2 linked regions of the Homo sapiens genome follow. The protein of the gene in region 1 purifies or fractionates together with the protein of each later gene. This does not show direct contact. Each region holds a gene or a part of one and is shown on either strand. Other genes may lie near its edges.

The links. Proteins that work in one complex are often made in the same cells at the same time.
Region 2: the proteins of PHEX (region 1) and NAXD purify together in Homo sapiens (affinity purification with mass spectrometry; 2 studies listed by BioGRID and IntAct, with this or other methods). This does not show direct contact.

Annotation. Positions count from the first base shown.
Region 1 is NC_000023.11:22,035,325-22,042,352, reverse strand, and holds part of PHEX (phosphate-regulating neutral endopeptidase PHEX), read right to left. Parts: intron 4,199-7,028; exon of another isoform or gene 3,959-4,198; intron 3,885-3,958; coding exon 3,816-3,884; intron 1-3,815. UniProt on the Homo sapiens protein: Peptidase that cleaves SIBLING (small integrin-binding ligand, N-linked glycoprotein)-derived ASARM peptides, thus regulating their biological activity. Cleaves ASARM peptides between Ser and Glu or Asp residues.
Region 2 is NC_000013.11:110,618,524-110,625,551, reverse strand, and holds part of NAXD (ATP-dependent (S)-NAD(P)H-hydrate dehydratase), read right to left. Parts: intron 3,337-7,028; coding exon 3,186-3,336; intron 1,319-3,185; coding exon 1,273-1,318; intron 363-1,272; coding exon 274-362; intron 1-273. UniProt on the Homo sapiens protein: Catalyzes the dehydration of the S-form of NAD(P)HX at the expense of ATP, which is converted to ADP.

The DNA of each region.
Region 1 (7,028 bases):
AGCCTGTCTGCCCTTATCTGTGATCATGAGCATGCATGCCCTTTCCTTGTTTCTTTGCATTCTTTGCACAGCTCTTATTTTGAAAGAGGGATTAAAATAAGAGGACACAGAGAAGAGGAGAGTTATGGAGAGGAAGCATCTCAGAAGTGGTTGGCACCTGCTCAGAAATGGTCCAGAAGGCGATCAAACACTCTAGTCTTCTGAACTTTCAGCATGCACGCCCACGCACGCACAGCCTCTTGTTTAAGGCCCTGGCTTGGCCGTAATTCTCCTGCCATGTGTACTCACAGCTGTTCTGCAGACCCCTGGGCACACTGAGGCTCACGTTACACTAAAGAGAACTGGGTCTTTGGTGAGCCTTTCACTCCAGAAACAGCAAAATCAATATTTTTTTTCAACATTAGAAAGCCATTCGCCAATGTGAAAATTAAAAACAGGACAGCAAGGCAGAACACACTAGCTGGCAGAAGGCAACATCTTTGAATGTCAGTCTGTAAGTTTTAGTCTTGCATTATTATGATTCATAATACAGAACTAAAACTCATGAAATAAGTGGCCTTCCATACAAAAAAGTGTTCTAAACTCAAGTTGAAAATTTATGAGCTCAAAAATTCCCATTTCACACATCTGCAAGAACCCCACCACAGCCAAAGCACCAGGTGACATAAACTCTAAAACCTGTCCTGATAGTTCCGCCTGCTCTCTCACCCCACTCCATGACAATCTCTCACCACTGGAGAAAACCTCAGGTCAACTACTCAAGCCTGGAGCAGGAAAGGGCCTGGGAGTTCTCAGATAGTTCCAGGGCCAAAAAGAGTTGCCTGGCATGGCCCCATATCACCAAGGAAAAGACGGAAAGGAGCCAGACATGGACACGAAGTCCAGCTCTGCTACTAACTCAGGATGAGACCCTGGGCAGTTATTTAGCCTCCAGAAGCCTCCATTTCCTCATCTGTCAGTGAGGCTGGTGATAGCACTGACTTCATAGGGGTCTTATGAAGGTTTTATGAGATGGTGCCTGTAAGGCACTCAACACACAGCCTGGTTAAAATATATATATATATATATATATATATATATATATATAGAGAGAGAGAGAGAGAGAGAGAGATCACTTAAGAATGGAACAAAAAAAGAACTCTACTAACATAATTATCTAAGCCACTACCTTTGTATAAGGTCTCCGAATTTACAAGCTCTTTCACCTAAGTGTTTCCCATCTCAATAAACACCACTGCCCAACCATCACCAAAAATCTAAGCGTCACCCACAATTGTCTGCTTTTGTTCACAGCCTGCATCGAATCCTTCAATAGGCCCTCTACCTCCTAAACCTTCCCCCATTCTCCCTCTCCATCTCTTGAATTCAAGACAGCATCGTCTGTCACCTGGCGTACAGAAATAAACCTACTTGAGTCACCTTCTTCTATTCTTGCTCCCTATGGTCTCTTCTCCATCAAGAAAGACTCCCTCTAACTGAGCCCTCCACCGAGACATCTTTTGAAATGCTCCTAAGATGTATTCTCTTTCATAAAAGCCTCCAGAGGCTTTCGAGCACACTTAAGGAAAGCCCAAACTCACTGGCACTTGGGTCCCCCATTGACTCCTCATCACTTGCACCTCACCTAGCAAGCTCCTCCCGTTCCTCAAGTCCACCAAGTTCATGCTTCTATGCACCCTTTGCCCCATCTGTTCCCCCCACCTGGAAAGCCCTTGCCTCAGTCTTCACACAGCAGTTCCCTCCTCATCATTCAAAGGTCACCTCCAAGGTCATGTCCTCCGGCTTTTCAATCTAGCCATCCTGTCACTTGCTATCACATTGTTCTATCTTTTTTTTAATTTTCTCTATAACATTTTCCACTGACTGATATTCCTCTTTCTTTCTTTCAGAGATGGGGTCTCACTAATTTGCCCAGGCTGGCCTCCAACTCCAGGGCTCAAGCCTCAGCCTCCCATGTGGCTGGAACTAAAGGCACGTGTCACCACACCCAGTTTCATAATTTTCTCATTGTATTAATTGCCTTATTGTCTTTCTTCCCATACCTGGTTCACTGCTCTATTTCCAAAACCTAACTCAGTACCTCATGTGCAACAAATATTTGGTGAATTTGTTCATTAACCTTTTAAGGCCAAGAGGAAAGTGAAAGGGCCACATGCTTGTTTGATGACTTTCCTTTTGGAAAAAGGAAAAAAGTGTCCCTGCCCACTTAAAGAATGAGGGTGAGGGCTAGAATCTGGCTCCCTGAAATCTAGGCCCTAACACTGATTTAGGAGGGAAATCTAATAGCTGTGTGTGGGACCCCCAGGTTTCCCCTCACCTCCCCACCGCCGCTTTCGGTGTCCTAACCAAAAATTACACAATCCCCTGACCACTCTGTGACCCAGCCACCTGCAGGTTTGTTTTGTTTTGTTTTTTTTGAGACAGAAGTTCCCTCTGTCACCGAGGCTGGAGTGCAATGGTGCAATCTCAGCTCACTGCAGCCTCCGCCTCCTGGGCTCAAGCAATTCTCATGCCTCAGCCTCCCGAGTAACTGAGATTACAGGCATGAGCCACCATGCCCGGCTAATTCCAGCTGCTGGTTTTTCCCAGCAGGCTTAGGTCCAGACTGGACCCTTGAACATTCCCAGGCACTGATAAAGGTATCTAGGTTGATGCACAAAACACTGAAAGAAACTAGTACCGGCTCTGAGCCAAATTCCTTAAACCCGCATATAGTCTCCACACCCTAATGCCCTAAGTAGAACACCCCTTTTCTCTCACTGTCTTGAGGATACACTGCAGCACTTTCAACATAAGTTGCACTAATAAATGCTTTGGACTGACCGGCCGCCCTGGCATTTATTTAGTGCTTCTTTCTTTGGAATCCCAACTGGCCCCATCTCGGGATGGGATATTCCCTCATGGGAATTTCCCTGTTGCTGCTTTTGGGGCAACTCCAGCCATGAGTTTGATGGGATAAGACACTGTGGCAAAACTGCGGCCACTTTAAACACTCATCTTCACCCTGGGATATCCACTGATACACAGCCTGGTCACCTCAAGAGAAGTTTGACTTGCAACGTGTGACAGAAAAAAGAGATTCCCAGCCGGGCACAGTGGCTCTTGCCTGTAATCCCAGCACTTTGGGAGGCCAAGGCGGGTGGATCACTTGAGGTCAGGAGTTCGAGATCAGTGTGGCCAACAAGGTGAAACTCCGTCTCTACTAGAAATACAAAAATCAGCCGGGCGTGGTGGTGGGCACTTGTAATCCCAGCTACTAGGGAGGCTGAGGCAGGAGAATCACTTGAGCCCAGGAGGTGGAGGATGCAGTGAGCTGAGATCGTGCCAGCCTGGGCGACAGAGCAAGACTCCGTCTCAATTTTTAAAAAAGAGAAAAGGGACTCCCACTGACAATGGAAGCGTGGATTTATTTGCAAAGGAGCCTTGCTTAGAGGCAGGCAAGTCAGACCCACAGACCAGAAGATAGGCAACTGCTTAAGGTAAAGAGGAATTCATAGCCAGCGGAGCCATAGGAAGACCAATGTTCTCTGCCTGTGGGTCTTAAGAGAGGCCATTCAGCCTTCCAAGCCCCTTCCTGATTTCCTTGTAACAACGCTTAGAATACCACAGTTTTTGCAAGGAAAAAGAAAACAGGAAACCTAAGCTCCACTGTTTCACACCAAAACTTGAAAATAAACTTAAAATTTCTTCAAAATTGCATTTCGTACTTGGTAAACCTCAAGCAAACAGAATACTAAAAATACCACCTGTCTTCTCTTCCACTTCCCAAGGTACCATAATTATAACTTGACACAGGATGGAAAACTGTGACTTACCCGCTTCGATGCATTCTGGCTTCAGGCAGTACTCCTGTTTAGCTTGGAGACTTAAGAGACCTTGACTCACTGAAAAAACAGACCACAATAAATGGCTGAGTTGTAGCAGACCACCATCCGGTAAACCACCCTCGGAAACATACGCAAGATATTTGATATCAGTTCATCCTTCTCAGTGTTGACACGGTATTCCAAAACCCAGTTGGTTCAATGTCACGAAACCAGACTCTAGCTGCTAGCTAAATAACCTTGGTAAGACTCTTGGTTGCTTTGAAACTCAGTTCTCTCGTACGTAAGATAAGTGAGTATAACTAGACCAGAGCTCCTAAGAGTGTGGTCTCTAGAGCAGCAGCAGCTGCTGCTGCTGCACCTGGAAGCTTGTTAGAAAGCCACTCCAAGATCTTGACTCAGAAACCCTGGGGGTGGGGCCCAGCCATCTGCGGTTTAACAAGCCCCCCAGGTGATTCCGATACATGCTCAAATATGAGCACCACTGGGCGAGACACTCTCTAAAGTCGCTTCAGCCTCCAATTATCAGTGGTTTAAGTCTCATACTTTCACTCTATTGGTTTATAACTCCATGCCCATGTTCAAGATGGGAAAATTGAAACTTTTAAACTATGTCATTTGGAGCCAATCAGAGTGGAAATAGAAAGCTAGCATGTTTGGCTTTTAGAGTTCTGGATCTTATCTAAACCATCCATACAGATACGGACCAAAAAAGGGGTAGGGGTAAAGAATATACTGAACATATCTCAATCACCTATTGATAGCAACAGTCATTGTCCGCCTGCCCTGAACCCCACAAACTCTCCGCCCACCAGGCCCAGCTTAGCTACCAGACATTTGCAACTTTGTGGACCAAGCTTCCAGCTATTTCCTCCCTTCCCCCACTCCAAAAAAAAAAAAGTCTAAAATTGAAATAGCTTTTCACCAATGGCTTAATATCTCCATCTGCCTGGCAACATTATCTAAATAGGTGTCTGCAGAAGTACAGAAGGGTGCCCAATTTGTCAACCCCAGGTAGCACCTGGGCATTAGCAGATGTTAGTTTAAGATTTCAAAAGTATTTGTAGTAGCTGAGGAAATTCTGGGGAATTCATTCTTGCTGTGCTCTGTGAGCAGAAACAATGAATCATTTGGAGATGTGGCCATGGGGAGAGGGATGGTGGGAGGTGAATGGGGACCAAGGCCCTCTGTGGCAGAAAGCTCGGCAGTACCTATATTTCTGCTAGAGATGGAAGACCTGTAGATTACTACCCAGTGTGGCGAGTTTTTATTATTTATTAACCCACTCTCTAAATGGAGCCTGCTTTTCCTTTGTTCTTTTTCTCTGCTGCCATCCTCCAAACAGCCTCTTTGCATTGCATTGTGTTACATTAGAGATTCAAGAAAACTGCCGATGAAACATCTCAGTCCTATTTTTTTTTTTTTTTTCGAGACAAGAGTCTCACTCTGTCACCCAGGCTGGAGTGCAGTGGGGTGATCTTGGCTCACTGCAAGCTCTGCCTCCCGGGTTCACGCCATTCTCCTGCCTCAGCCTCCCGAGTAGCTGGGACTACAGGCACCCGCCACCACGCCCGGCTAATTTTTTTGTATTTTTTAGTGGAGATGGGGTTTCACCGTGTTAGCCAGGATGGTCTCGATCTCCTAACCTCATGATCCGCCCGCCTCGACCTCCCAAAGTGCTGGGATTACAGGTGTGAGCCACTGCGCCTGGCCCATCTCAGTCCTGTTTTTAAGAAAATAAGTTTCTTAGCAAAAAGGTGTGTTTTGATTTCTGTATAAAGCAAAAAAAAAAAAAAAGTTATGTAAAAAAATATATATGGGCAGCATAAAGATTAGTGTGCAATATTCCAATATGCCTGGGTGGCAGAACCTCAGGGGGAATTTTCCCCATCAGTCAATTTTTATATGTTGACCTAATGTTCTTTAGTGAGCATGTGTTCTTTTATATAATGCAAAAATAAGCTTTATTGTAAATAATATTTTTATAATTCTGGACAATACCTTCTTGATCCTAGCCTTATTTTAAAAAACAAAATAGCTAATAAAATCGTTAAAGACTTATTCCTTTCATGAGAGATAATTCTTGACCCAAAACCTCAAAGGAAGAAGTAAAATCAGGTATCTTTATCTAACGATGAGCAGAAGGAAGGTTTTAAATATAACTAATTAGGCCAGGCACGGTGGCTCAGGCCTGCAATCCCAGCACTTTGGGTGGCCGAGGTGGGCGGATCACCTGAGGTCAGGAGTTCGAGACCAGCCTGGCCAACATGGTGAAACCCCATCTCTACTAAAAATACAAATCTTAGCTGGGCGTGGTGGTGCACGCCTGTAATCCCAGCTACTCAGGAGGCTGAGGCAGGATAATTGCTTGAACCCAGGAGGCGGAGGTTGTAGCGAGCCAAGATCGCACCACTGCACTCCAGCCTGGGTGACAGAGTGAGACTCCGTCTCAAAAAAAAAAAAAAAAAAAAAAATATATATATATATATATATGTACGTGTGTGTGTGTGTGTGTGTGTGTGTGTGTGTATAATTAATTAATTGGGACACTGACAGACCCAACCCCTCAAGGAAGAGCATTATCTCCATGGATGGGGTTATTTTAAAATTCTCCAAATAAATGAGGATCAATAAGCCCAGATAATGTGAAGGTGTAAGTGAATGAAATAGAGACAATAAAGAAAATATTTTTAATATAAAAATTAAGATGTTACTTTTGAATGGTTAGGAGCTTTAAAAAATACATGTAAATAGCAGTTTGGTTTCTCATTGTAGATTTCTCTATAACCAGAGGAAATGCCCTTAGGATGCAGTGGAGTCATCCACAGATCAAGAGCATAAGAATGGCCAGAAAGCAGGGGTCAGCAAACTATGGCCTGTAGGTCAAATCCATTGCCTGTTTCTGTACAGCCCATGAGCTATGAATGGCTTTTACATTTTTTTCATGGTCAGGAAAAATAAAAAGGAAAATAATATTTCATGACATATGAAAAGTATATAACATTCCAATTTCAGTGTCTAGAAATCAGATTTTCTTGGCACACAGCCATGCCCATTTGTGTACATATTGTCTATGGATGCTTTTGTGCAACAACAGCAGAATTGAGTAGTTGCAAGAGGCCGTATGGCCCACAGAGCCAAATATATTCACTATCTATCTGGCTCTTGGCAGAAAAAGTTTGCCAGCCAGTGCATCTGAGAAAC
Region 2 (7,028 bases), on another chromosome or scaffold:
CACACAGCCCACAGGGCCTCCCTGCCTCTGGAGCTGGGCCCCGGCCATTTCCAACAGGCCCAAGCTCCCCCACCCACCTCTCCACCCCGCCGTCTCTGTCTTATTCTGACCCCAGAAGAACGGGCTCCTTCATTTCCCTACTTCCTCTACAGCACCTGCTGAGAAACTCTGAGGATGGAAAATCCATCAGGACGCTTTCGGTGTCAGTGCCAAAACCCCAAATGATGCAGGAGGGAAAGAGAACCTACGAGAAGCCGGCGCAGAGCGACTCACAGAACTGGGTGGACGATCAGCTCCGGGCTGTAGGCCTTAATCACAGGTGCGGCCGCACTGGCACAGAACACGTGGGACAAGTCTGCGCCCTGATGAAGGAGCACAAGAGGCCGACTCAGGGATCGCTCCGGCATCGCTGCCCACCCGCCAGACACAGGCGTCCAGCGCTCATTACTCAGCCCTGGTGACGTGCATGAGAAACGTACTAGCTCGGATTACACCCAGCCAGGTGGCTTAGCAAAGGGCCAGGGCGCAGAGCACAATACCTAAAAAGAAAGACTTTTGCCGCCACTGCAGAGGCAGGGTCAGAGCCACACACACCAGCACGGCCCAGCTCGGTCTGGTCACCCTCCAGGAGGAAGGGTCACAGGAAGAGGCCGGCCGTTAGCACTTGCTCAGCTCATGGGAAACTGCAGGATCAGCGGCTTCAGCTGCGACCTACAAAGGCATCCCAGGTGCACTTTGGTGGAGTACAATACAAATCACGCTTTAGGTTTTAAAAATGGGCTTCAATTGAGGCCAGGTGCAGTGGCTCACGCCTGTAATCCCAGCACTTCGGGAGGCCGAGGCGCATGGATCACGTGAGGTCAGGAGTTCGAGACCAGCCTGACCAACAGAGAGAAAACCTGACTCTACTAAAAATACAAACAAAATTAGCCAGGCGTGGTGGCAGGTGCCTGTAATCCCAGCTACTCGGGAGGCTGAGGCAGGAGAATCGCTTGAACCCAGGCGGCGGAGGTTGCTGTGAGCCGAGATCCCGCCATTGCACTCCAGCCTGGGCAAAAAGAGCGAAACTCTGTCTCAAAAAAAAATGAGCTTCAACTGAAGTGATCTTGTTTATGCACAGATGTCAGGATAGACTTAACGGTGTTTCTATTAGCTATGATTACCCTAAGATATTATTTAGATTTCTATCAGAAAACATTTGCTTTAATCATATTTAAATAATCAAACTCTCTACCAGAAAAATCCCAATAAAGAAATTTTAAGTAAACATACCACTTTGAGAGCTGAGATTGCTGCAAAATATGGGGCTCCAGTGTACCTAAAAAGAAGGTATTTAGAGTCAAAAACTTCTGAGAATAAGGTAAGCATACCTTGATCAATAAATAGGTTATCAATAAAAAATAGACATAAATAATATAGACATGGTTTATCAATAAATAACAGAGACATGAAGCACACAGCACAAACCCAACACCTAAAAGATGCTCAGCAAATGTTCAATGAACATGAACCAGGTTCGACTAGAAATGTCTTTTTTTTTTTTTTTTTTGAGACAGAGTTTCACTCTTGTTGCCCAGGCTGGAGTGCAATGGCACGATCTTGGCTCATTGCAACCTCCGCCTCCTGGGTTCAAGCGATTCTCCTGCCTCAGCCTCCTGAGTAGCTGGGATTACAGGCATGCGCCACCACACCCGGCTAATTTTGTAGTTTTAGTAGGGACAGGGTTTCTGCATGTTGGTCAGGCTGGTCTCAAACTCCCAACCTCAGGTGATCCGCCCGCCTCGGCCTCTCAAAATGCTAAGATGACGGGCATGAGCCACCGCGCCCAGCCAGAAATGTCGATCTTTTACATAAAACCTTCATGCATTTCAGGAGAGTGAATCTCTGGCAGTAATGCCTGCAGTCTCCCTGCAATGTGAATGTTCAAGGTAAGGAGCTGACCGCAGGCTTCTGCCTGGAGAGAAGAAAGTGACAACCACATGTTCGGAGCAGTCGGGCATGGACAGGGTCCCAGAGTGGGCAGACCCCGTCCTCCAAGAGTCACAGTCAGCAGAGGCCAGATGGGGGCCACCTGGGACAAACAAGAAACGGCACCCACCACCCAGCTGCTTCCGCCTGGCTGTTCTGGAATCCCTGGCTCTCCAGGTCTAAGGGCACTTCAGGCACAGAAAGGAAGAGCCCTGCCCTCCGTCAGATGGGCAAATGCAACCTTTATGTCCATTCCGAGCAGTGAAATGTTTTGCTAACCCAAGAAAGAGAGACCTGGGCAAATGCTGATACCCATCACCTTACATGGCCTTCTCCTGCAAAGCGGTGTCAATAGCGTTGTAAATGCAAAAGACAGTACAGAACAGGCAACATACATGCACACACTCTTCCATCATGTGAAAACAAGCCTCACTAATAAGAGAAATGCATTAAAACAACAAGAAAGCTTGTCGACTTCACTAGCAAAGGTTGTCCTCCAAGGGCTGCAGGGAACAGGTGCTCTTGGGAGGCAACACACACTAACGCAATGGGGGGACAATTCGGCAGCGTCACCAGCATGTAAAATGCACACATACCTGATCCAGTAACAACTCTAACACACCCTATGGCACGATCAACAGCTGCAAATGGAGGGATGGGCAAAGAGAGATACCACATCCATGCAAACAGAAAGCAAGCAGAAACAGAGGAGCCACGGCAGGCTTTCCGTCAGAGGCAGAAGGTATCCTTCACACCCAAGGACAACTTACAAACAGCTACGTACCAAACACAGCAGCAAAACAGAACAGAAGCAAGCTAGGGATTTGTCAAATTTCATAAATGACTTTCAGTAACATCTTTAAATTGACAAAGTAAACCAAGAGGTTGCTGAGTGTTTCTATCCTAAATACAAAAAACATGCTTGTGGTATGAAGTCCAGTTAAATACAGAAAAGCAGAAAGTGGAAAAAACAGGCTCATTTCCCCACTACGACAAAACTTAACACTGACACACATGAGGGAGTAATTCAGTCAGGGCTCCTCAGAGTTATTTCCTAGTTAATCAAAAAGTGGATCACTGAAAAATACTGAGTGTCCTATCAGGCTGCATTTGGAAATGATTACTGAGGTCAAACTAGACAGCGTGAATGACAGTCAGGTAAGCAGCCAGCCAGCAACTGACTTTTTAAACACCAACACTGCACATCAGCTACTTACTCCTGACAGCCTCCAACTACGCCTATTCTTCCATCTTGCCCTTTGTGCTTTGTGGAAGACAGAGGAGGTATGATATTTCTCACCAGCTGCAAAGTATTTTCCATATCCTTTATCGAATGTGCTTTACGTAGCGAAAACGCTCTTTCTAAAACTGAAAGACAAGAAAAATGAATAATTCAGAAAGGTAAACAGATATTGTTAGTACACATAATAGCCCATTAACCAAAACCCTCTCCAAAGTTATTACGAATGCTATAGATTTTTACCCAATGGATTTCTGTAAGCAAATATGATGTTCAAAATTACATTAACACATGCAATTTTTTTTTTCTTTTTTGAGACGAACTCTGACTCTGTCACCCAGGCTGGAGTGCAGTGGCGTGATCTCAGCTCACTGCAACCTCTGCCTCCCAGGTTCAAGCAATTCTCCTGCCTCAGCCTCCTGAGCAGCTGGGATTATAGGTGTCTACTACCACACCTGGCTAATTTTTGTATTTTCAGTAGAGATAGGGTTTCATCATGTTGGCCATGCTGGTCTAGAACTCCTGACCTCAAGTGATCTGCCAGCTGCAGCCTCTCAAAGTGCTGGGATTACAGGCGTGAACCACCATGCCCAGCCTGAACACATGTAATTAACACATATAGTAACACATGCTATTTATTTATTTATTTGAGACAGAGTCTAGCTCTGTCACCCAAGCTGGAGTGCAGTGGCACGATCCTGCTCACTGCAACCTCCACCTCCTGGGTTCAAGCGATTCTCCTGCCTCAGCCTCCGGAGTATCTGGGATTACAGGCACCTGCCACCCTGCCCTGCTAATTTTTGTATTCTTAGTAGAGACAGGGTTTCACCATGTTGGCCAGGCTGGTCTCCAACTCCTTACCTCAAGTGATCTGCCCGCCTCAGCCTCCCAAAGTGCTGGGATTACAGGCATGAGCCACCCCACCAGGACAACATATGCTATTTCTATCAGGTTTATTTTTGAAATGTATCTGAAATTTTGGAAGACCATTTAATTTTCCAGAAAGTTTTATCAAGTAAAAAAATGCATTATTACTTAATAAACTATCACTTCATTTCAATTTCCCTTTAGGATTATTAGGTCTTTTCTCTCCTCACAAACTGGAAAGCAAGCTCCCACCTGTAATCCGCTGGGGTGCTCAGAAGTCTGACAGATTCATCATATTACTCCCAACTGTATTCCAACACTCAACTGGGTATTAATTAAATAACCTAGAAATGGCATTCTAAATATGGCACACCTCTTAAATTGGGTTCAAAGTGGCATTTAATGTATTTTCATCATCTTGAGTTGTCTCTAAACAGCTACACTTCAATTGGCCTTTCTTGAAGAGCTTCCTGTGTTATATATTTTACCTTAATATTTAAAACAGCTCGGCTATGAGAGAAATGCTGGTATGTTCTATAGAGCTCAATGAATAAAGCATACATTCTCCCTAGAATGAAAGGATCTTTGCAAATATAAACAGTATTTTTTCAAACAAGGCACTCAATATTTTTATCCTTCCAATTATCTCAGCAGCAGAGAAAAACCAGTGTCACAAGTTCCACTGACTGCAGTCCAAAGCTCACTGAGCGTTTCACAGCAAAAGAGCTTTGTCTTTTAACTCTTACAGTTTTACTTTTTACTCAACAAAACTTTTGAAGGAATTTTCTTTATGAGTAGATGTAACTGCCTTAGCTGATAGAGCAGATGCTGGGATTCCCCAAGATAAAAAGATCCTATGAATCCCCATCAACCCAAATTCTTTTTTTTTTTTTTTTTTGAGACAGAGTCTCACTCTGTCGCCAGGCTGGAGTGCAGTGGTACAATCTCGGCTCACTGCAACCTACGACCCCCTGGTCCAAGCAATTCTCCTGCGTCAGCCTCCTGAGTAGCTGGGACTACAGGCGCATGCCACCACGCCCAGCTAATTTTTGTATTTTTAGCAGAGACGGGGTTTCACCATGTTGGCCAGGGTGGTCTCGATCTCCTGACCTTGTGATCTGCCCACCTCGGCCTCCCAAAGTGCTAGGATTACAGGTGTGAGCCACCGCGCTCAGCCCAACCCCAAATCTTTTCACCTTCTTCCAGACCAACACACAAGACCCGGCACAGAATCACTATAAACTGTGGGCCAAGGAGAGACACAATGAAGCTTGCTGAGCTACCTGCAGGGGACCAATGCACCCATCCTTGAAATCCCTCCAGGAGGGCTAAATTATGGTTTTAAAACAATACACTTGTCTAGAAGAGACATTTATGGGGCCAGGCGCAGTGGCTCCCCGCTGTAATCTCAGCACTTTGGGAGGCCAAGGTGGGTGGATCACTTGAGGTCAGGAGTTCGAGACCAGCCTGGCCAACATAGTGAAACCCCATCTCTACTAAAAATACAAAAATTAGTTGGGCACGGTGGTGCATGCCTGTAATTCCAGCTACTCGGGAGGCTGAGGCAGAAGAACTGTTTGAACCCAGAAGGTGGAGGCTGCAGTGAGCCAAGATTATGCCACTGCACTCCAGCCTGGGTGACACAGCGAGACTCTTGTCTCAAAAAAAAAGACATTTATGGGTATCGATCAGCATCCTGTCTTTGTCGTGGGGAGCTGTTCTATGCACTGAAGGATGCTGAGCAGCATCCCCGGCTTCTACCCAGTCAGCAGTGCATGTACACGCACCCAGTGGTGACAACCAGCAATATCTCAACACTCCCAAATGTCTTCTGGATGGGGCAAAATGAGCCTGGGTTAAGAACCACTAGTAGAGATGCATGCGTGTAGTTTTAGCACCTTTAAATATACCAGTACTTCAAATTAAATATTTAAGGTCATATAAAATATAAATTGTGACTTATGAAATCACAGAGAAAAACAATTTAGTCAGACTTCAACTTACGGATGTTAAAAATCAACATTTATATCAATGTACCCTGCCTGATGAAAACAACTCCTAAATGGTAATACTTCATAAATGTGTATTTCTCACAATAAGAAAAGGAATAAAATGGTTCCACCAGATAATACTGTATATTTTCCAGGAGGCTTCTTTCTCCCAATATCCAAGATTCATATCTTACAAACATCTGTATCTTAAATTTCAGATTTAAGTCTTAAAAAAAGTACTATAGGTGAGGTATGAAATATTTAATGTTTATATCAAAAAGGGCAAATACCATAAACCCACACTGAACTACCCATTTGCACTTTGCCTCATAGTTGAAATAACCTATACATTACCGGAAAGGATCTGACACAAAATTAAGCTGCAGCCACGAGTCCAGGTGGAGCACCTGTCAGGTGGAGGGGAGCACCAATGCCCCTCTGCAACCAGTGTCGCCCAGCACTCCCAGGAGGGCACAGCAGGGCCGCCTCGGGGTCACAACTGCAGCACCAGAGCTCCCAGGGATGCTGTGTTCCAAGTGCTTGTCCTCTCCGCATCTGCTCCCCAGAGCGGAAAAGCTTCCCTTCTGCGTCACACTCTGCTGAAAGTCCTCCCAGTACTTTTGGTACTGGGATAGCACCTTTCTGATCTTTTTGGTTGAGAAAGAGGAGATATGCTAGTCCAGGCAAGGATACGCTTAAAACCTACAGGCTTTAAAGCTAATACTGATTTTTGTTGTTATTCAAATAATGACAAGAACACATACAATTTTTCCTGCACTTCAAGGTAAGCTTTGTTAAAATGATAAGATATCAGGGGGCTCAAACATCGAATACAATATACGAATAAGGGCCACTTTCTAAGGCGGATTTTTCTACAGCAGGTTAAGCATTAAAGTCCCATTTACCACAAGCCAAAAATATCAATTCTGAGTGTGTAAAACCCACTGCATTCACACGGCAAT